Linked DNA regions of Homo sapiens. The protein of the gene in region 1 purifies or fractionates together with the protein of each later gene. This does not show direct contact. Each region holds a gene or a part of one and is shown on either strand. Other genes may lie near its edges.

Region 1 (7,155 bases):
GGCCTAAAGAAATGCAAAACTGTTTTTGCTTTAGCTGCACACTTTTGATAGCCCGTTAAAAGGCCGTCACGACCTTCTTCTGAGTTGCCTTAACTCAGGCATGGAACAAGATACACGAAATCACATTTTAGCTTAGGCCCTTTGAAAACGTGCCGTGAAGTATTTCCATCACTCATTTTAGGAAACAGAAACCATTTGGAAGTGCCACTCGCAAACCCTCTGGATGGGAAAACTAATTTCCTAAGCATCTGAAGTGAGCTGTAGGGAGTTTCCAGTTCATTTGTGAAAAAAGTTAGCTTACTTGTTTTTCCAAACATCACTCATCATCCTCCCCTGTAGTTCCAGCAAGCAATTCTGAGCTCTTCAGTCTTTAAGCCTCATTTTTAATGTCAGAGAATGATTTCCGCAAGCCCTGTCTCCCCCAGTGCACACGGCAAGCCAGTTTGAGCAGTTAGAAAAATGGGTGTCCCATAGAGCCTCGCAGCCTGGTCTATCCAGGGCAAACTAAGCTAGTGCAACTGATCAAGTAAAGGACTCCAGTGCATTCTGCGCCATTCCGGGAGTCTTAGGGTATTTTAAAAGGTTATCCAGTCTGTGCACATGCAAGGAAGATTTCCGGTGTATTTAATATGGATGGTAGTGCATTTCTCAAATATAGTACTGTGTACATAAGATCTGCTGTTTGTTGGAAAAGCTAAATAACCGAAAATGTAAATGACAAAGCCTGGGAATATGGCAGGGTCAAACAGAGCAAGGATGAAGAAGATTTAAGTATGCAGCGTGTCCTAAGCAAAACACAAAGCATGAAAACTGAGCACAGCCACCTGCAAGGCACCTTCAGCAAGCCCGACGGTTAACAGGGTCAGTTTCTCCACAAGTGGACAGAGGGGGTTATGCAGCAGCCAACTCTTCCTGATGGCAATTTGTGACCCAATTTCATCCAGTGTTTCATGACCAACCCCCCTGAATGTTTATGAAGCAGGAAAGAAGCTCAGAATCCAGGCGAGGCCTCCGGGACAGGAAGTGGGCCAGGCACCTCCACAGCTTCCTATGCCTAAAGTTCTCCATTTCAGCCTCAAGTAGCCGCCAGAAGACCACTAAGATTCCGCCACCTTCTCCAATCAAAACTACATCTAACCAACCTCCAGGGCAGAATATACTGAGGTAGGATTTTCCCTCGTGTTCACTTCTTCACAAGCAGGTTAACACTTGCTTCTCAGGAAACCCCTGTTCCAAACGTCAAAAAACCTCCATGTCTAGCCCAATCTCCAGGTGAAGTCAATTTCTTCTCCACGTGTCCGATGACTGCCATTCTCTTTACGTAAAACTCGCAAGGCTTGAATCCTGTTACTAATTCACCTGCTTATCTATGAAGCTTGCAAAGTGAATTGAGGGAGTGTTCACACGCACAGTTCCGTTTTGGTAAGTTAAAGCGGCCCAGGTTAATTTCATTTTCAGTCACTTTTGAGACTTGATAACTACATCTAAAACAGAGGCATGAAAAACACCCTGAATCACTTTCATTCCTACACAAAATCCCTTCCGAGAAGCGGGGACTGCGCCTGGGCCAGGAAGGGACTCCCCTACCTGTAGGTCCCAGCAAGCCACGCCCACCGGCCTCTCAGGGTTGTTTCTTTCTGGGTCGAGGGACGGAGCTGGCCCTTGCGATATTTTAGGCCCCCTCCTGCCCACACTGGGGCCTGCTCATCCCATTATGCAGATGCAAACTTGGCAGAAGCAGCCTTAAACCTGTTGGCAAAATAAACAAAGCCAAATAAAGAGGAATCTGCCAACCTGAATTGTGTGAAGTGGCCAAGGCCGACTCCACGCACGCTCGGCTTTGTCCCTGAAGCTGTTACAATACTAGTTTAAGTCAGGTGCCTGGGGTCCACCAGCCAATGACCCCTAGCATCCACCGCAGACCTTCACAGAGATCCCCATTGTCTACAAATTAAAGCGTTTTGCAAATTAAACCCCTCCACACAATGCCAAGCTAACTGTGCTCATAAGGCAGTTACCCTCCATGCCTTAAAACTCACATATCAAATTTTTCCAAAAGCACTCGGTGATTAAATCGCCCTGAAAAAAACCGAGAGAGCCGAGCGATTGTGAGAAACTTTGGTTCATTCAGGTGGCTGTTAGAGTCCTGTAAATCTGGGGCAGGGCGCAGAGCCTGAAGCCGGGCACAAAAGCTCCCTTCGCCGAAGCGAGGACCTCCTTTATGCAATGTGACAGCAGCTTTGTGCGCGAACATAAATAGTTGTAATAAACACGGTTAAGTTCTCCCGGCCGATCGCGGCCTCCCCCGTCCCTGCGCCGGGGCCCTGCGATCCGCGGCTATTCTTCCCCGGCACACGCGCCCTGGCGACCCTGGCCACCGCACGGTCCCACGCTAGCCCCGAGCTCCGTGCCGGCCGCCCGCCTGCAGGCCAGGCGCAGCCTGCGCACCCGGGGGTCTCCAGTCCCCGGGCCCCGCAGCCGGGCCCCCTGCCCTGATCCTCGCCCGCGCCCTTGGCTGGCGTCCCCGCCCCTGGGCCGGCCCCCGATGGTGGGGGTTAGGGATGGGAAGGCGGGCAGGAAGGTGCAGAGCCGGGAGGTGCCCGGCAGTCCGCGGTCGGGGGCGCCCAGGCCGCGGCAGGGCCGAGAGCACCGGAGGGGCGCGGAGGGGACCCGCTCTCCTGGCCCCTTCCCGGGCGCACCCCGGCCCGCGAGCCCCGCCGCGCTCCCAACTCCGCCCAACGGCCCCAAGTTTGTGGCCCCCGCCCCACGCCCGCCTAGCCGCGCTTACCTCGCCGTGGGCCGCCCGCGGAGCCGGAGGGCAGCGGCGCGGGTCCCGGGGCGGTGGCCGCGCTGCGCCCGCCCAGGCGCCGCTCTTTGTCTGCGCCGCTCCCTCCTCCCGCCGCCGGGCGGACGCTGCCGGCCCGGGCGGACCCTGCCGGCCCGGGCGCCGCGAGCCTCCCGGCCGCCAAGCCCTCCCCTCCGCCCGCCGCCCGCTCGGCCGCGCGGCTCCGGCCTGACGATCCCCGCGGCAGCGGCGGCGGCGGCGGCGGCGGCGGCGGCGACCCTCCCCCGGCGCGCAGCGCCCGCCTCCTCCGCGCTCTTCCTCCTCCTCCCGCGCTCCTCCCCGGCCGCGCCGTGACGCCGCCCAGGGGCCGGCCCAGGCCCGGGCGCGCGGGGCGGGGACCCGAGACCCACCTGGGGCGCCCCCCGTCGTCGCCAGGCTCCGCGCCCGGGTCCCGGTACGGGCGCCGGGATAGCGCGGGGCTGCGGGACGCTCCGCTCTGGAGGCGCAGCACGGGCCGGGCGCCGGGGGCAGGAAAGGGTCCCCACGCCCGAAATTGCGTGCGGGCGGTGGGGGGCAGGGTAGGTGGGTGGGGAGGAGAGTGAAAACACAGACGGCAACTTCCAGCCTGGGATGACTGCCGGGTGGGCTTTGCGTCCTCTTTTTTGTTTGTTCGTTGTTCTTATCACGAAGCTCTAGTTGCTGGGCAGCCGCCCCCCTCCCGGAAGCATTCCCACGGCACTCAGCTAAGCAGGCCTGTTGTCCATCAGAAAAGTGACTTAAATAAAAATGTCACTTCCTCCCTGTAATTGCTTGTGGGCATTTTTATTTATTTGCTTTGCATCTATTTACTTTCCCAACCAGACACATTTTTAGTCCATCATCCCTGTCCGAGGCACTTCCTAAAAGAAGAAGAAACTCGACCTCTGTTGCCTCCCAGGCATCCAGGCCAGCCCCAGCCTGTGGAATCCTGGTTGCACACCCGTGGGGGCAGAACCCGAAGAGGAGCTGCCCGAATGTGCCCCTAGAAGGAGTGTCGCTAATGATGGGACCGTTCAGCTCACCCAGCCTCGAGTTGTGGCTAGCCTATAAACAAACTTGGAAGATGAAAACCCAAGAGCAAGGGGAAAGACACAAGTTTCCCTTTCACAGACACATGCATCCGGATGTCTTTTCTCCTCCCCATATGGTTTCCCAAAGGAAATCCTAATATTCAAATGATTCTGATTTCCTGGCAGGATAGCCTGCATCCATGTTAATGAGATTCTTTCTTAGGCTCCTGGTCTCTGCTTACTATTAAGGCAATAATAATTTACCCAAGGTTACAAGGCTGTATTATTTGATTCACTCATCTCCTGCTTCCTTCCAGAAGGGAAGTACCCAAGGATAGGTAACTAGAGTCAGCGTAGCTTTGAAGTCAGACAGGTGAGTGTTTGACTGTTGACTTCCTGAACTGTGTAACGTTGCACAGGTGGTCCTCAGCCTTTCTAAAATCTGTCATATGGGGAGATAATATTTACTTACCTCCTATGTGAAGTACCCTGGCAGTAGGTAGCCCTCAATAGCTCAGTAAGTGGAAGGAAGCACAGTACACTGAGCAGGAATCAGGTACAAGCTCAGGGAATCAGAACAGCCTCATTTTTCCTTGTTTTGACCTTGTGAAAGAAGCTACTTCAGTTCATCCTTTTGTGCAAGTTTTGTGTTACTAATATCTAGCTTTACAATAAGAAAAGAAGAATTCTAGTCATCAGTCTGCCCAATTTTAGATTAATTTACTCAAAATAAGTATAGCAATATTGACCCAGTTTGTAGCTTGTTTGCTTTGTAAACTTTCACTGAATCGTGGTTCTTGCATGCCTCTTCTTTCTCTGATTCTTTAGAAGTCACCGATGTCATTCTCTATCTAAATCCAGTGGCCCTTTATCAATCTTTATCCTGTGGAGTTTTCTGAAATATGTGGCATTTCTGCTATTTCCTGAAACACCATCATCTTTTCATTCATCAAACACAGCCAGTTCTGATTCTCTTACCTTTCTGACCTGCCCATCTGCCTCCTCTAGAGAGGTTGTTGTCTTCCCACCCTGTAAAAGTGATATCCCCAAGGCAGATGGTGGCCCTTTGTTTTTATTCTGATACGCACCTTTTTTTTTTAAAGAGAGAGTTGATTGTTTTTTGTACACTCCCTGTCTAAACCTTCATTGATTAACCCCCAGACCTGTAGCCTTAGAGAGCTCCCCTGCTAATCTGCAGAGCTCCCCAGCTAATCTGCACCCCCTAAACATGGCGCAGCATCTCTTCTAGGTCACCATGTTCAAAATGAAACTCATCTGCTCCCCAGACCAGCTCCTCCTCCCATGGTTTCAGGCCTGGCCAAGAGTCTACCAGGCACCTCAGCTCCTGGGAGAAATCTCATTGTTATCTTGGCTTTTCCTTCCCTCTCTCCGAGTTCTCCCCAAGAAAAGCTGGGAGAGCGCTGAATGACACCAAGACCCCTTGCAGACTACCCCCATGGTTCTGAGTCCTGGTGATTCTTAAACATCTTTTCCACTGCACCTTTCTTTCCATTTCCATCACTGGCATCCTAACTTATACATCATTCTAGCAATAGTTATAATGTACCTTGATTGAATTCTTGACATATATCATCTCTAATCCACACACAATAGTATTATACCCATTTTACAGATGAAATCACTTGAACAGTGGATCAAAGAACTGGGGTCAGAGCATGTACCTGACTCCAAAACTCTTGTTCAATTCCCCACAACTACTGCCTTCCAACTGGTCTCCCATTACTTCCTTCTTAAATCCCTCAGACTCACACTGGACATCAATGTCATCCTAACCTTCCTGTAAATTGTTTCCATTTGTCCCTGGTTGTGCTCAAGAACTTCTCATGGCTCCCCATTGCCCACCACAGTCTCCTCAAAAGTTATCTGATGACTGAAGACTGAGCATTTTCCCCCAGAGAGGCTGGGGTATTTAGCCCTTAGAGGCCTGTGTTCGTTTCCTGGGGCTGCCTTAACAAATGACCCCAAACTAGGTGACAAAACAGAGGTTATTTTCTCAAAGTTCTGGAGTTCAGAAGTCTGATATCAAGACACCAGCCTCTCTCCAAAGTCTGTAGAGAACAATCCTTCCCTGCCTCTTCCAGCTTCTGGTGGCTGCAGACATTCCTTGGCTTGTGGCAGTGTCACTCCCACCTCTGCCTCTCTGTCTTCACACAACCTGGTTCCCTGTGTCCTTTCCCTTCTCTCTTTTTGTAAAGACAAGTATCATTGAATTTAGGGCTCACTCTAATCCAGCATGATGTCATCTCGACATCCTTATCTTACAACATCTGCAAAGACCTTTTTTCCAAATAAGGTCGCGTTCTCGGCTTCCAGGTGAACATATCTTTTGGGGCCAACATCCAACCCACTGCAAGGCTTAACATGGGGGAGACATTTCTTTGAAGCTTATGTTTTATCTAAAAATATATAGGTTTTTCTGCATTCTACTCCATTAATGTGTCCACATCTGTTTTACTGTCTTCAATCACAAAGTATTGAAAGCATAAAAAACATGGAGTGGAAGGAGGTGCAGTAAACTTTTGCCTAAAATCACATCAGCATTACATCTTATGATCTCTCTTCCAAAGGCCTCTCCAACTTAGCCCTGCCATACAATCTCCTTTTTACCTCTGTCCAGTATAAGCTGTTTGCTTCAGTCACTCAGCTCTGCCCACAGTGCCACATTGAGTCACACTAGTTTCAGCCTTCTGTGGTGTGAAGGCAGCTAGGAATTCCCTGTCCCCGTCCTTCTCTTTCAGAGCTCCATTCAAGGCCTTCTCTAACCCCTCCTTAGACTCACGGAAAACACAAAGCAAGGTTGAGGGTGTTGTCCAAGTCATACGTCAGAGGCTCAAAGCCTACCTTGGAGCCTGTGCCTTGGGGTCATTTCACCTCTCTGAGCCTCAGATATTAATAGTGCTCTTGCAAAGCGTTGTGAGAATTAAAGGAGATAATATAAACATGTCTCAACTGTGTGTTCAGCACATGGTAAACACTCATGTCTCCTTTCTCATGACCTTCTCTTGTAACCCTCAATTCAATTAAGCATATCTGGTGTAGTTCTATTTGTAAGGCATTATAAGATCCACTTCAGGATTCATTCATTTGGTGCAGACACCAAAGAACACCTGGATGTGCAAAGAGCAGATATAAGATTGCATTATTCAGAGAGGTTATAACGCAAACTGGAGTGGAGTGAAAGGATGGGAAAATAGTTTAGGAGAAATGGAGAGGAAAGACCCAAAAGGAAGGATGAAACCAGCATACAAATAACTATAATATAAAACTAAATATGAACAGTACCAAAGAAAATATGTCTAG
Region 2 (7,026 bases), on another chromosome or scaffold:
TTAACAGACAAAACTGTTTTTAGTAGTAAAACGGTATCTTGGCTAGGCATAGTGGCTCACATCTGTAATCCCAACACTCTGGGAGGCTGAGGCAGGCAGATTGCTTGATGCCAGGAGTTCGAGATCAGCCTGGGCAACATGATGAAACCTCACCTCAAATTTTAAAAAAGTACAAAAATTAGCCAAGCGTGGTGGCACACGCCTGCAATCCCAGATATTCTGGAGCCTGAGGTGGGAGGAGCTTGAACCTGGGAGATGGAGGCTGCAATAAGCCAACATCGCGCCACTGCACTCCAGCCTGGTGACACAGCAAGACTGTCTCAAAGAAAAGAGTATCTTATTATTCCTCCTGATTACTATCAGAATTGCTGTAGTGACTATAGTTAAGCATGTAACACAGTAATAGAATAACATACACACACACACACACACAATCTGGCACAATAAGCCCAATAAATGTTTTTGCTTCCCGTAAGACACACTCAGAATGTCAACTCTTCCTCACTGTTTCCAAGCTTTGTTCAGTAGAAACAGGGGACACTAGATGCAATAATTAAAGAGAAATCTTGTAACTCCCAGCAGATCTCTGAGCCTTGTTTTGATTCCAAATCTACTCAAACTAAAGCTCTTTAAGAATAGAAGCTTCTTTAAGCCCTCAAAAATATTCCCTAAAACCCAGATTCCTCAAGGCCCTGAGAATTTGTATCTACTCCTAGGCCAGGGCAGCAAGGTAAACAGGGTTAGCCAGGTTCACAAGGACACCGACACCAGCTAGACACCAGGCAGGTGACAGCGATGAGACGACCTGGAATGGCAAAATAGAGCAGGGTAAGAGTGATCTGTTTGGCTTCTCCAGCTCCCTCCCTCATCCCAGCCAGGTTCTGCTGTCTCCAATAAGCTTCTGGGCTCTTTGTCAGATCCAGTTATTTTTCTTTTTTTTTTTTTTTTTTGAGACGGAGTCTCGCTCTGTCCCCCAGGCTTGAGTACAGTGGCACGATCTCGGCTTACTGCAAGCTCCGCCTCCCGGGTTCATGCCACTCTCCTGCCTCAGCCTCCCCAGTAGCTGGGACTACAGGCACCCGCCACCACGCCCGGCTCATTTTTGTATTTTTAGTAGAGAGACAGGGTTTCACCGTGTTAGCCAGGATGGTCTCAATCTCCTGACCTCATGATCTGCCCGCCTCAGCCTCCCAAAGTGCTGGGATTACAGGCATGAGCCACCGCACCCGGCCCCAGATCCAGTTTTAAGACTGTTTCAAGTGACAGAGCCAGAACTCCAGTCCCTAAAAAACAATTTCCAAAAGAAGTCCTGGGATGGGAGACAGGCTTTTGTAATCCAAGATTAACCCTAATTTTGAGAAAAGTATGATGGTTTCTATTTTTCTCAAATTCCCTTAAAAATGGACAGTGTTGGCGGGTGCAGTGGCTCATGCCTATAATCCCAGCACTTTGGGAGGCCAAGGCAGGCGGATCACAAGGTCAGGAGATAGAGACCATCCTGGCTAACATGGTGAAACCCCATCTCTACTAAAGATACAAAAAAATTAGTCGGGTATGGTAGCGGGTGCCTGCAGTCCCAGCTACTCGGGAGGCTGAGGCAGGAGAATGGCGTGAACCTGGGAGGTGGAGCTTGCAGTGAGCCGAGATCGCGCCACTGCACTCCAGCCTGGGCGACAGAGCAAGACTCCATCTCAAAAAAAAAAAAAAAAAAAAAAGACAGTGTTTTACTCTGCAAAGAAAAAATTCTTGAAACAAACTCTATGAACCAATAATGCTAGTTTTTGGGTTTTGGGGGGGCGGGTTTTGAGGCAGGGTCTTGCTCTGCTGCCTAGGCTGGAGTGCAGTGGCGTGATCTCAGCTCTCTGCAGCCTCTGCCTCCTGGGCTCAAGTGATCCTCCCATCCTAGCCTCCCAAGTAGCTGGGACCACAGGCACACGCTACCACGCCTGGCTAGGTTTCTTAAATTTATTTTTATTTATTTATTTATTTATTTTTTGAGACAGAGTCTCGCTCAGTCACCCATGCTGGAGTGCAGTGGTGCAATCTTAGCTCACTGCAACCACAATCTCCCGGGTTCAAGCGATTCTCCCGTCTCAGCCTCTCGAGTAGCTGGGATTACAGGCACCCGCCATCATGCCTGGCTAATTTTTGTATTTTAGTAGAGAGATGGGGTTTCACCATGTTGGCCAGGCTGGTCTTGAACTCCTGACCTCAGGTGATCTGCCTGTCTCAGCCTCCCAAATTGCTAGGATTACAGGCGTGAGCCACTGCACCCGGCCTAGTTTTTTTATTTTTTGTAGTAATGGGGTTTCACCATGTTGCCCAGGCTGGTCTTGAACTCCGTCTCAAGCGATCCTCCTGCCTCAGCCTCCCAAAGCACTAGGATTACAAGTGTGAGCCTGTGTCCCTGACCCCCACTGTACTTTTCAAATGTACATTTTACAGGTGAGAAAAGAGAATCGGTGAGAAAAGAGAATCAGTGATCTGTCCAATGTCACACAACAAATCGAGGCAATACTCAAATGATCTCTGACTAAAATATCTCAATTTTTTTCTGGTTTATCACTCTTAAGAATTGCTGCTCTAGCCAGGTACAATTGCTCACATCTGTAATCCCAGGGCTTCGGGAGGCCAAGGTGGGAGGATGGCTTGAGCCCAAGAGTTTGAGTCCAGCCTGGGCAACACAGACCTCATCTTAAAAAATAAAAATAAAAAAAAATTTTAATGAGCCAGACATGGTGGCAACACTCCTGTAGTCCTAGCTACCACAGAGAAAGAATGGAAAAGTGGGAAGCAAGAAAGCCTGCAGACATTTAAAAGTGCTCAGCTCAACCCACGGAAATTGCATTTTTCTCTTCTTCTATTCCTGGATGAGGTCAGAAAGATATGAGCTTTGCTCAGACAAAGAGTCTTTTGTAAAATCCCTAAGTTAAAAAAAAAGTCAAACCTGAACTTTATAGAATCAAGGGCCACCTTAGCACTACCTCATTATGGCTAAAGCTAGGGAGATATGGGATCAGGAATGCAGTAGGCCACTGTTTGGCTGCCCTATGTTAGATGGCCAGCTGCTAGAGTACAAATCTGTATGTACTGAACAAAGAAGCTGCACACAGGTTAATGGACTTTTAATGCCTTGCTACTTAATGATATAACCTTTACCCTTTTTTTGGGACAACGTCTTGCTGTGTTGCCCAGGCTGAAGTGCAGTGGCACTAATACAGCTCACTGCAGCCTCCACCTCCCAGGCTCAAGTGGTCTTCCCACCTCAGCCACTCAAGTAGCTGGGACTACAGGCATGCACCGCCATGCCAGGCTAATTTTTTAAAATTATTTTTTGTAGAGACAGGGTTTTGCCATGTTGCCCAGGCTGGTCTCGAACTCCTGGGCTTAAATGATCTGCTGGCCTCAACCTTCCAAAGTGCTGGGATTAAGGCGTGAGCCATCATGCCCAGACTCCATGACATAACTCCTTAATCAATGTTCTATACCTGTAGAAACTGACTTTAAAATAAAAGCTAAGGGCTGGGCGCAGTGGCTCACTTGAGGTCAGGAGTTTGAGACCAGCCTGGCCAACACGGCGAAAACCCGTTTCTACTAAAAATACAAAAATTAGCCAGATATGGTGGCACATGCCTGTAATTCCAGCTAGTCAGGAGGCTGAGACACAACAATCACTTGAACCTGGGAGGAAGAGGTTGCAATGAGCAGAGATTGCACCACTGCACTCCAGCCTGGGCGAAAGAGCAAGGCTCTGTCTCAAAACACAAACAAACAAATAAATAAATAAAGGCCAAGAAGCTGTTTGTGGAGGGTATGTCTCAAAGTCTAATGATACAACGATATGGGAGCCAAAATTCCCATGTCCAATAAGGCCCCAGAGAGCTGTCACGGTCTCCCTCACTCTAAAATTTCAGTTATGCTAATTATAACGAGATTACACAACCTCTTCTTTTTCCAGGGTTCCTAAATTCCCTCCTCACCCAGCTTAGGCTCCATTATTGCAATCACTCCCTCACATACACCCTTCCCTTCCTGCCCCACTCTCCCTTAGAGTCGCACATGCCTAAAACATGCTAACGCTGGTTAAACACAGCTCTACTCTTTTTCTGTACCTGCAAATCACAACTGAACACATGAGACTAATTAATCTCACATGAAATGTATGGCCCATAATCTCAAGTGGGCCCTTCGCGTGGTTGCCTATCTGAGCACACTTCCCTAGTCCACCCACACTCCCACGCTCCAGATGACCATTTCATGCCTCTTCTCTCTCCTCAACTCTCCTTCTCCTTCCCTCGCCTCAATCACAGCTGATGCTCTTGCTTTCCATTTCACTGAGAAAACAGAAGCAAATTAGAATAAACTTTCCACATGCTTCTACCACTACACCCACCTACCCACTTGCTTCTAAGCCTATATGCTCTGCCTCCCCTCTTGTTACTATGGAAGAACTATGTTCCTATCTAAGGCCAACCCTTTTTATCTATCGATCACATTCTCTTTTCTCTGGCCTCCTCCAGGTCATTATTCAGGCAATCTGTTCCCTCTCTTCTGATTCAATTTTTTCCCTCTCTCCTAAGTTTCATGCTACTCATTCCATCAGCATACAAATAGGTCTCCCATCTTGGGATGGGAAAAAAACAACTCTCAACCCCACATCTTCGTCCAACAATCACTTCACTTATCTTCACCCCTCTCTCCTGGACTTTACAGCGAACTCTTTAAGAGATTTCTATATTGCTATCTCCAATTTCTCTCCTCCTATTCCTGCATTCTTGAACCCACTCCAATTAAGCTTTCACTTTCACCCTCCACCACTCCACTGAAACTACTCAAAAGGGTCCCATGATACTAAGACCAATGCCAGTTCTTGGTCTTTAACTTACCTGACCCATCTGCAGCACTGGGCACAGCTGACCACTTACTCTACCTTGGAGTTTTTCCATCACATTCTTGGTTTTTCTCCTTCCATCCTCACTAGAAGCTTTTCTGTTTCCTCTGCTGGGTATTCTTCATCTCTTTTGCCTCTAATGTAGGAGGGCGAGGGCTCAGCCCTCATTTTTTTTTTTTTTTTTTTTGAGATGGACTGTCACTCTGTCGCCCAGGCTGGAGTGCAGTGGCGTGATCTCGGCTCACTGCAACCTCTGCCTCCTGAGTTCAAGCGATTCTCCTGCCTCAGCCTCCTAGGCCTCTTCTTATCTATATTCACTCCTTAGGTGACTTCATCCAGCATGTGGTTTTCAACACCATTCAAATGTATCTCTCTAGCCGAAACCTCTCCCCTCAACTTTGGAGTCTGATAGCCAATTACCAATTCATTGTCTCTTCTTGATTACCTAACAGGCATCTCAAACTTGTCTCAAACTGAACACCTATCTTCCCACAAATTCACAGTAGTCCTAACCATCTGGCCGTTTACTGCAACAGCCCAGTAACTGGTCTCCTTTTGTCACCTTTGTCCTCCTGCGGTCTGTTCTCAACATAGGAGTTAATGATCTTTTTAAAAGGTGAATCAAATCATACTACTTCTCTGTTTAAAACCCTCCAGTGGCTTCCCATCTCACACAGTTAAATCCAAGGTCTTTGCAAAATCCTGCAGTGCGCTCTCCCCTGCAGCTCCAGCTTTCCAACCTCCAAGTCCTACCACTCTTCCCTCCCCTCACTCTTTGTAGTCTTGCCACAATGGCCCCCTTGCTGTCCCCAAAATGTTTCAAGAATACTTCTGCCTTATGGCCTCTGCATTTGTTGTTCCCACTGCCTGCAACAGCTGTTCTCCTAGATAACTACTAAGCTTACTCGTCACTTTCTTAAGGTCTTTGTCAAATTTTCACCGTATCAGTAAGGACTGTCCTGACTCTCTCCCCACTCCTCCAATTAAAGATATCATCATCCCGACCTCCGCCCCAGTATATCTTATTCCTCTCCTCTGCTTTGTAATTCTCTAAAGCATACTGCATACTATGTATTTATATATTTTACTAGTTTGACTGTCAAATTTTTTTGTCTTTTCTATTTATTGCTATTTCCCTACCAACAGACCTGACACATAAAAAGGTACTCAATAAACCCACTGAGTGAATAAACGAATTACTGTCTTCAAGGAGTGCTCTGGGGAAAGATAAAATCAACTCACAGCATGATAGGGAAAAAGGTGCTTCCAAGCACTTACCTGCTCCCCGACTGGGAGGGTCTCGGGCTGGGGGAGGTGGCCTATTACTCAGTAAAGATGGGGAGGCCGAGGTGGGTGGAGGAGGTGCTAGGCCTCTGACAGGCCCTGGTGTCTTCCTATGCAAAGAATTGTGTCTCTGTGGCAGCTCAGGGGCTGACTCATTAGTGGGGCTAGAGGGTCCATTGGGGACCCCAGGAGGCTGGCGGTAAGGCGGAGGAGGAGGAGCCAGAGACTGGCCACTTGGTCCTGTTCTGATATTCACAGGGGAAGGAGGTGGTTTGACTGGGGGTGGAGCAGGAGGTCCCTCTCGACCAGGGTGAAGCCTTTGTCCAGGCGTCGGTGGCAAGGGTTTCTCTCTGTTGTAGGCGGGGGCTTTGCTGCTGTGCATAGGCAGAGGTGTGGGGGGTGCGTTGGCACGCCGCCCTGGGGGTGGTGGGGGAGGGGCAGAGGAGCTGTGCTTCATGCCCGTACTGCTGGTGGTATTAGGCCGAGAGAGGTCCGGTAAAGAGGGTCTCTGCATCCGGGGCAGTTCTGGGAGTGAGGCCCGGCTGCTGTCTGTATCATCCTGAGGACGCCCGCTGGCGGCAGATACTGGAGGCCTTGGGGCAGCAGCTCGAGAACTGGGGATTTGCAGGGCTGGCTTACCAGCTAGGTTCTCTACAAATACATAGACAACACAGGGTCAACAGAGCTGGACAGATATTGGTCAGTATCCCTACTTCACTCGGCTCCTTAGTGCAACCTGCATGGCAGCAGGGAAAGGAATTGAATAATTCTGGGTTTTTTGTTTTTCTTTTTTTTTTTTTTTTTTTTTTTTTTTGAGACGAAGTTTCGCTGTTGTTGCCTAGGCTGGAGTG
Region 3 (6,837 bases), on another chromosome or scaffold:
GGCGAATCCTGTCTCTACTAAAAATACAAATATTAGCCGGGCATGGTGGCACACACCTGTAGTCCCAGCTACTCAGGAAGCTAAGCCAAGAAAATCACTTGAACCTGGGAGATGGAGGTTGCAGTGAGCCGAGATCATGCCACTGCACTTCAGCCTAGGTGACAGAATGAAAATCTGTCTCAAAAAAAAAAATCTACCTGTAAATGGATCCATGCACTTCAAACATGTATTGTTCAAGGGACAATTGTACAAGCCTACTAATGGCTTAGGATGGGAAAAAAACATCCCATACATAGTCATCCTGACTCATTCAATACCAAGACAACATACTCAAGTCTATCCTTATAATTTAATTTATCCAGTTTCGCAGCCGGTGGGGTCTTTTTCTAAACTCTTGCATTGTGATAGTGTCAATCTTTTTTTTTTTTTTTTTTGGAGACAGAGTCTCGTCTTTTGCCCAAGCTGCAGTGCAGTGGCACGATCCCTGCTCACTGCAACCTCTGCCTCCCCGGTTCAAGCAATTCTCCTGCCTCAGCCTCCTGAGTAGCTGGGATTACAGGTGTGCAACACCATGCCCAGCTAATTTTGTATTTTTAGTAGAGACAGGGTTTCACCATGTTAGCCAGGCTGATCTCAAACTCGACCTCAGGTGATCTGCTCGCCTCAGCCTCCCCAAGTGCTGGGATTACAGGCATGAGCCACCATGCCAATCTTTAAGAACTTGCCTCAGGTACACCTAACTGCTAAGTCAAATTCCTTTGACTGTTAATCCTGCATTATAATTCTCTTCTTACTTAGTTGTATTTAATTGTTATTTTCTCTAAATTCACTTTCTAAAATCTTTAAAAACCACCTAGTAATTACTCCAAACATTTGGCCATTATCATCACTTTAAGGGAGGATAATGATCTAAGCTAAGGGAAGTCATTTCTTTTGGCTCCAAAAGACTGGACTTCTGTATGTCTAATTCCTTAGTTTAGAATTTTTGGGGGCAGGGCACAGTGGCTCAGGCCTGTAATCCCAGCACTTTGGGAGGCCGAAGCGGGTGGATCACTTGAGCTCAGGAGTTTGAGACCAGCCTGGGCAAGATGGCCAAAACCTGCCTCTATTTTTAAAAGCACAAAAATCAGCCAGGTGTGGTGGTGCACACCTGTAATCCTAGCTACTCAGGAGGCGGGGGCATGAGAATCATTTGAATCCAGGAGGAAGAGGTTGCAGTGAGCTGAGATCACGCCACTGCACTCCAGCCTGGGCTAGAGTGAGACCCTGTCTCAAAAAAAAAAAAAAAAAAAAGAATTTGTTGAAAAGCCCAAATAAAGTCTTTACTCTCTATCTGATCATAAAATGTGACTCTTACAAATTAGACATAAAAATATCCAAGCTGATATCTCCTTGCCTATAAAGCAAGAAAAGGGACATTTCTCCTTTGCAAATCCTAAGCTTAGGCTTTTCAATTTTCAGTCAGTCGCCTAGGCTGGAGTGCAGTGGCATGAACATGGCTCACTGCCTTCAGGGCTCAAGTGATCCTCCTGTCTCAGCCTCCCGAGTAGCTGGGACAACAGGTGTGCATGACCATGCCCAACTAATTTTTTTGTTGTCGTTGTTTTGTAGAGATAGGATCTGGTCATGTTGCTCAGGCTGGTCTTGAACTCCTGGGCTCAAGCAATCCTCCCACCTTGGCCTCCCAAAGTGCTGGGATTACAGACATAAGCCATTGAACTCAGCCACGATTATAGTCCTAAACACCCTGTATGAAAATACTTTAATACAAAAATGATGCTCTTCTTTGTCCTGAAGTTGTCATTATTTCATCTTCAAGATTAGAACTTCTTTGAATGTAGGAAGTGGTTCTTATTCTGTGTCTCCCACTATGCCTTAAGAGAGGGCCTCATATGGAGCTCTAGCATCTCTCGCTGATGCTTTCTGACAATCTCTTGCTCTGTCACCTTTGTACTCCTAAGGCCATCAGTCCTTTAGTTAGAGAATCATTCATTTAAAAATCTTTCCAAAGTACACTAGTCCCTATATCCTGTAATTACACAAGAAAGTCTAACCAGTGCCAAGTTCTGTTAAACACTTGGAGAAGAAGGGGTAGGAATCTCGATTGCTTTGCTTGCTGTTCATAAGGAAGAATTTAAGGCTGTCACAAGCAGGCCATGCCTAGGAAAGATTCTGGTAAAGATATCTTTCTGCTGAAGGCACCCGACCTGTGTTAGCTCTGAGGAATGGGCTAGAAGCAGACAGAACACCTACCATAAGCTATATATACTAGCAATACAGAGAGGACTTCCAAGGTCCTACAAGATCCTGGCATCCCTCTGACCTCATCTCCCACCACTCTCACCGCAGCAGACACAGGAAACAGGAAGGAATGGACAAGACGGGAGTGGTTGACAACGGGTCCAACTAAAAGGCACGACGCTAGAGGGTATCGACCAGATCCTGAAGATGGGGAACGGTCAACAGTCTTGAAACAGAGGAGTGACACGGTCCCGGATGCTCACTTTGAGTGCAAAGTGGGGACCGGAATGGATGCAGAGTACAAAGGAGGCAGGGAGACCACTTAGGAGAAGAACCACGGAGCGAGGATGGGGCTGCCTGACGCGTCTAGGAGAAGGACTTGTAGAATGGATCCAGAGGGATGGCAGGAAGCCATGAGCTCAGCGTAGGGCAGGATAACCCTACAGAGACTGTCTACGGGAGCCTGAGGGTCAGGGCGGGAGGGAGAAGGTGGGACCTGAAGGAGGAAGTGAAAACCCGCAACAGCCGAAGGCTGCGGGAGTCCTCTCAAAGCATCTCCCCGGCGCCCCAGCCCAACCACCTCAGCGGCCTCCCTCCTCCCCGCCTCCCCTTGCTGGCCCGCTGACCGAACGAGTTGAGAAAGTCTGCGATTTTCTTGATGCTGCTGGTGATTATCTCAATGTACTCCCGGTTAGCCCAGTCCTGGTGAATCTCCCGCTGCACCGGATCCTCCTGTCCCGCCATGGCCGCCGCCTGAGGAAGAGCGACTGCGCAGGCGCCCCGACCCTACAGGCCTCTAGTGCGCCTGCGCTGCCAGGCCACACCCATCCTCTTGAGCACCCACGAATTCTCGGGCACTATGATAGGCCTGTGCAACGTCACGTCCTCGCCGGCGTTTGCTCTCTACTCCCACGCTATAGAACACAGAAGCCTGGACGCCGGCGGCGAGGTTGTAGTGCACGCGCGTTATGGTCGTTACACGGCGCGTGGGGTCTTGCCGTCTCCCTCAACTGCTCCAGGCTCAGGTTGCGCACTCAGTGTCCGCAGTGAGATGGGCACAGTCGATTAAATCACATTAAATACAAGTCTTTTTTTTTTTTAGACGGAGTCTAAAAAATAATATGGTCATAAATAGCTGGGCACACTGCAAACTGGAACAGTCCCTTTCAGAAGGAAATTTGTGTTTTTGTGTTGTTTTTTGAGACAAGGTTTTTTCTTGTTTTTTGTTTTTTTGAGACGGAGTCTTGCTCTGTCGCCCAGGCTGGAGTGCAGTGGTGTGATCTCGGCTCACTGCAACCTCCGCCTCCCAGGTTCAAGCTATTCTCCTGCCTCAACCTCCCGAGTAGCTGGAATTACAGGCGCACACCACCACGCCCGGCTAATTTTTTTGTATTTTTAGTTGAGATGGTGTTTCACCATGTTGGCCAGACTGGTCTCGAACTCCTGACTTCAGGCAATCCGCCCGCCTCGGCCTCCCAAAGTGCTGGGATTACAGGTGTGAGCCACCTCGCCCAGCCTGAGACAAGGTCTTACTGTCGCCCAGGCTGGAATGCAATGGCATGATCATGGCTCACTGCAGCCTCGAACTCCTGGGCTTGAACTCCTGGGCTCAAGCTATCCTCCAGCCTCAGCCTCTGGTGTAGTTGGGACTACAGGCTCACGTCACCACGCCTGGCTAATTTGTGTATTTTTTGTAGACACGGGGTTTCACCATGTTGGCCAGGCTGGTCTCGAACTGACAGGTGATCTACCCACCTCGGCCTCCCAAAGTGCTGGGATTATACGCATGAGCCACCATGCCCGGCCTATTATGCAGTCATTTAAATGCTAATTATGAACACAAGCAACATGAAAACACATACAATAAATTGAGGGGAAAAACAAAATACCCTCCCTCCCTCCCTTCCTTCCTTCCTTTTCTTACTTTTTTTTTTTAAGACAGAGTTTCTCTGTTAATGCCCAGACTGGAGTGCAATGGCACGATCTTGGCTCACTGTGACCTCTGCCTCCCGGGTTCAAGTGATTCTCCTGCCTCAGCCTCCCAAGTAGCTGGGATTACAGGTGCCCGCTACCACACCTGGCTATTTTTTGTATTTTTTAGTAGAGACGGGGTTTCAGCATGTTGGTCAGGCTGGTCTCCAACTCCTGACCTCAAGTGATCTGCCCACCTCGGCCTCCCAAAGTGCTGGGATTACAGACATGAGCCACCCTGCCTGGCCCACATTTTTCTTTAATTGCAACTATGGAAAAATGTATGTTTGAGGACAAGAAGGATCTACAAAAAAAGTCACTATCTGCTTTGCTAAGGTAGTGGAATATGAACAACTTTATTCTCATTTCAGGGAATACTTACAATCTGGCATGCAGTAAATGCTCTTTTTTTTGAGACAGTCTTGTTCTGTTGCTCTGGCTGGAGTGCAGTGGCTCGATCTCGGCTCACTGCAACCTCTGCCTCCCGGGTTCAAGCAATTCTGCCTCAGCTTCTCAGGTAGCTGGGACTACAGGCGCACACCACCACACACAGCTAATTTTTTTTTTTTTTTACCAGAGATGGGGTTTCACCATGTTGGTCAGGCTGGTCTCAAACTCCTGACCTCAGATGATCTACCTGCCTCAGCCTCCCAAAGTGTTGGGATTACAGGTGTGAGCCACTGTGCCCGGCCAGTAAATGCTTTTTATTAAAAAGAAAAAATGTGGCTCAGTGGCTGGGTGTGTGGCTCACATCTGTTAATCCCAGCACTTTGGGAGCCTAAGGCGGGCGTATTGCTTGGGGCCAGGAGTTCGAGACCAGCCTGGCCAACACAGTGAAACCCTGTCTCTGCAAAAAATAGAAAAATTAGGCATGGTGGCATGTGCCTGTAATCCCAGCTACTTGGGAGGCTGAAGTGGGAGGATCACCTGAGCCGAGGGAGGTCAAGGCTGTAGTGAGCAGTGATTGCACTCTTGCACTCAAGCCTGGGTGACAGAGTGAGACCCTGTCTCAAAAAAAAAAAAAAAAAAAGTGGCTGAAGAGTCAGATTACTACCAGTATTAGCATTAACTGGGAAGAAACCATTACTAACAGTTATTTACCCCAGTAGAGAATTTTATAACCTATAAAGATGCTTTTATAGCTATTACCTTACTGGACCCTCACAAACCCTGTGGAAGGAAGCCAGGAAGAAGTTTCTCATTTGAAAATAAAAAATCAGAAATCTGATGTTCAAGGTAACAAAGCCGATTAAAAGGTAGACCCTAACCAGCTGATTCCAGACTTCATTATCTCTTCACTATACCGCTCTGAAAACAGGTTAAAGTCTGTCTGAGCTCTCCTATGAATACATGTAAATGATTTTTTTTTTCCAGACGGAGTTTCGCTCTTGTTGCCCAGGCTGGAGTGCAATGGCGCCATCTTGGCTCACCGCAACCTCCGCCTCCCGGGTTCAGGCGATTCTCCTGCCTCAGCCTCACGAGTAGCTGGGATTACAGGCATGTGCCAGCACGCCTGGCTAATTTTTTTTTTGTATTTTTATTAGAGATGGGGTTTCTCCATGTTGGTCAGGCTAGTCTTGAACTCCCGACCTCAGGTGATCCACCTTCGTCGGCCTCCCAAAGTGCTGGGATTACAGGCATGAGCCACCACGCCCAGCCTACATATAAATGATTTCTAAAATAAATAATAGATATAGAGAATTAGGGAAGCCTAAGCATGCAGTAGGCTATCTGCTGCTCAAGGCCCTGTATCCTAAGTGATGCTGTTGAAGTGGCATTTTGCTTAGATATCACAAAGTCAGATAGACCTGCTTTTCCTTTAAAGGTATTGCATCAGCCGGGCATGGTGGCTGTAATCCCTGTAATCCCAGCACTTTGGGAGGCCGAGGCAGGTGGATCATCTGAGGTCAGGAGTTTGAGACCAGCCTGGCCAACTTGGTGAAACCCTGTCTCTACTAAAAATACAAAAAAAAAAAAAAAATTAGCTGAGGGTAGTGGCAGGCGCCTGTAATCCCAGCTACTAGGGAGGCTGAGGCAGGAGAATTGCTTGAACCTGGGAGGCGGAGGGTGCAGTGAGCCGAGATCGCACCATTGCACTACAGCCTGGGTGACAACGGTAAAACTCTGTCTCAAAAAAATAAAATAAAAAATAAAGGTATTGCACCATGGTTTGAAATCTTAAATCTACCATCCAGGAGTCATTTCACCTCTCTGAGCTTTGGTTTCTTTATGTATAATTCAAGGATAACAACACTGATGAATTAGGATTGTTGGAGGATTATGTGAGAAAGTATAAATAAAACACTAAGCACAATGTCTAGCTCTTCATAAAGCATGCACTCAGGATCAGTTTATATTTTCTTATTATGCAGACGGCAGAAAACTGTATCCAACAATTTTTTTTTAATGAACATCTTCCATGGACAGGTCAGACTCAAGTCTTGTCCTTTTGGTTGACTTTCTATACACCTGTTCCAGAATCTCCCTTGTAATTCTAGATGACTCAAGGATATGATGCTGTTCTTGAGTGAAGATGGTTCCTTTGGACCTCAGGAGCCTTTTCCTAAACGCTTTACAGAGCTTGCTGTCAGACAGTCCTCTAGTTATGGGTTTGCTAGCATGATA

What was found. Proteins that work in one complex are often made in the same cells at the same time.
Region 2: the proteins of NCK2 (region 1) and WIPF2 purify together in Homo sapiens (affinity purification with mass spectrometry; 5 studies listed by BioGRID and IntAct, with this or other methods). This does not show direct contact.
Region 3: the proteins of NCK2 (region 1) and BRK1 purify together in Homo sapiens (affinity purification with mass spectrometry; 4 studies listed by BioGRID and IntAct, with this or other methods). This does not show direct contact.

The regions. Positions count from the first base shown.
Region 1 is NC_000002.12:105,740,772-105,747,926, reverse strand, and holds the start of NCK2 (cytoplasmic protein NCK2), read right to left. Parts: upstream 3,016-7,155; 5' UTR 2,789-3,015; intron 2,322-2,788; exon of another isoform or gene 1,588-2,321; intron 1-1,587. UniProt on the Homo sapiens protein: Adapter protein which associates with tyrosine-phosphorylated growth factor receptors or their cellular substrates. Maintains low levels of EIF2S1 phosphorylation by promoting its dephosphorylation by PP1.
Region 2 is NC_000017.11:40,264,290-40,271,315, reverse strand, and holds part of WIPF2 (WAS/WASL-interacting protein family member 2), read right to left. Parts: intron 6,827-7,026; coding exon 6,170-6,826; intron 1-6,169. UniProt on the Homo sapiens protein: Plays an active role in the formation of cell surface protrusions downstream of activated PDGFB receptors. Plays an important role in actin-microspike formation through cooperation with WASL.
Region 3 is NC_000003.12:10,111,850-10,118,686, reverse strand, and holds the start of BRK1 (protein BRICK1), read right to left. Parts: upstream 3,013-6,837; 5' UTR 2,986-3,012; coding exon 2,868-2,985; intron 1-2,867. UniProt on the Homo sapiens protein: Involved in regulation of actin and microtubule organization. Part of a WAVE complex that activates the Arp2/3 complex. As component of the WAVE1 complex, required for BDNF-NTRK2 endocytic trafficking and signaling from early endosomes.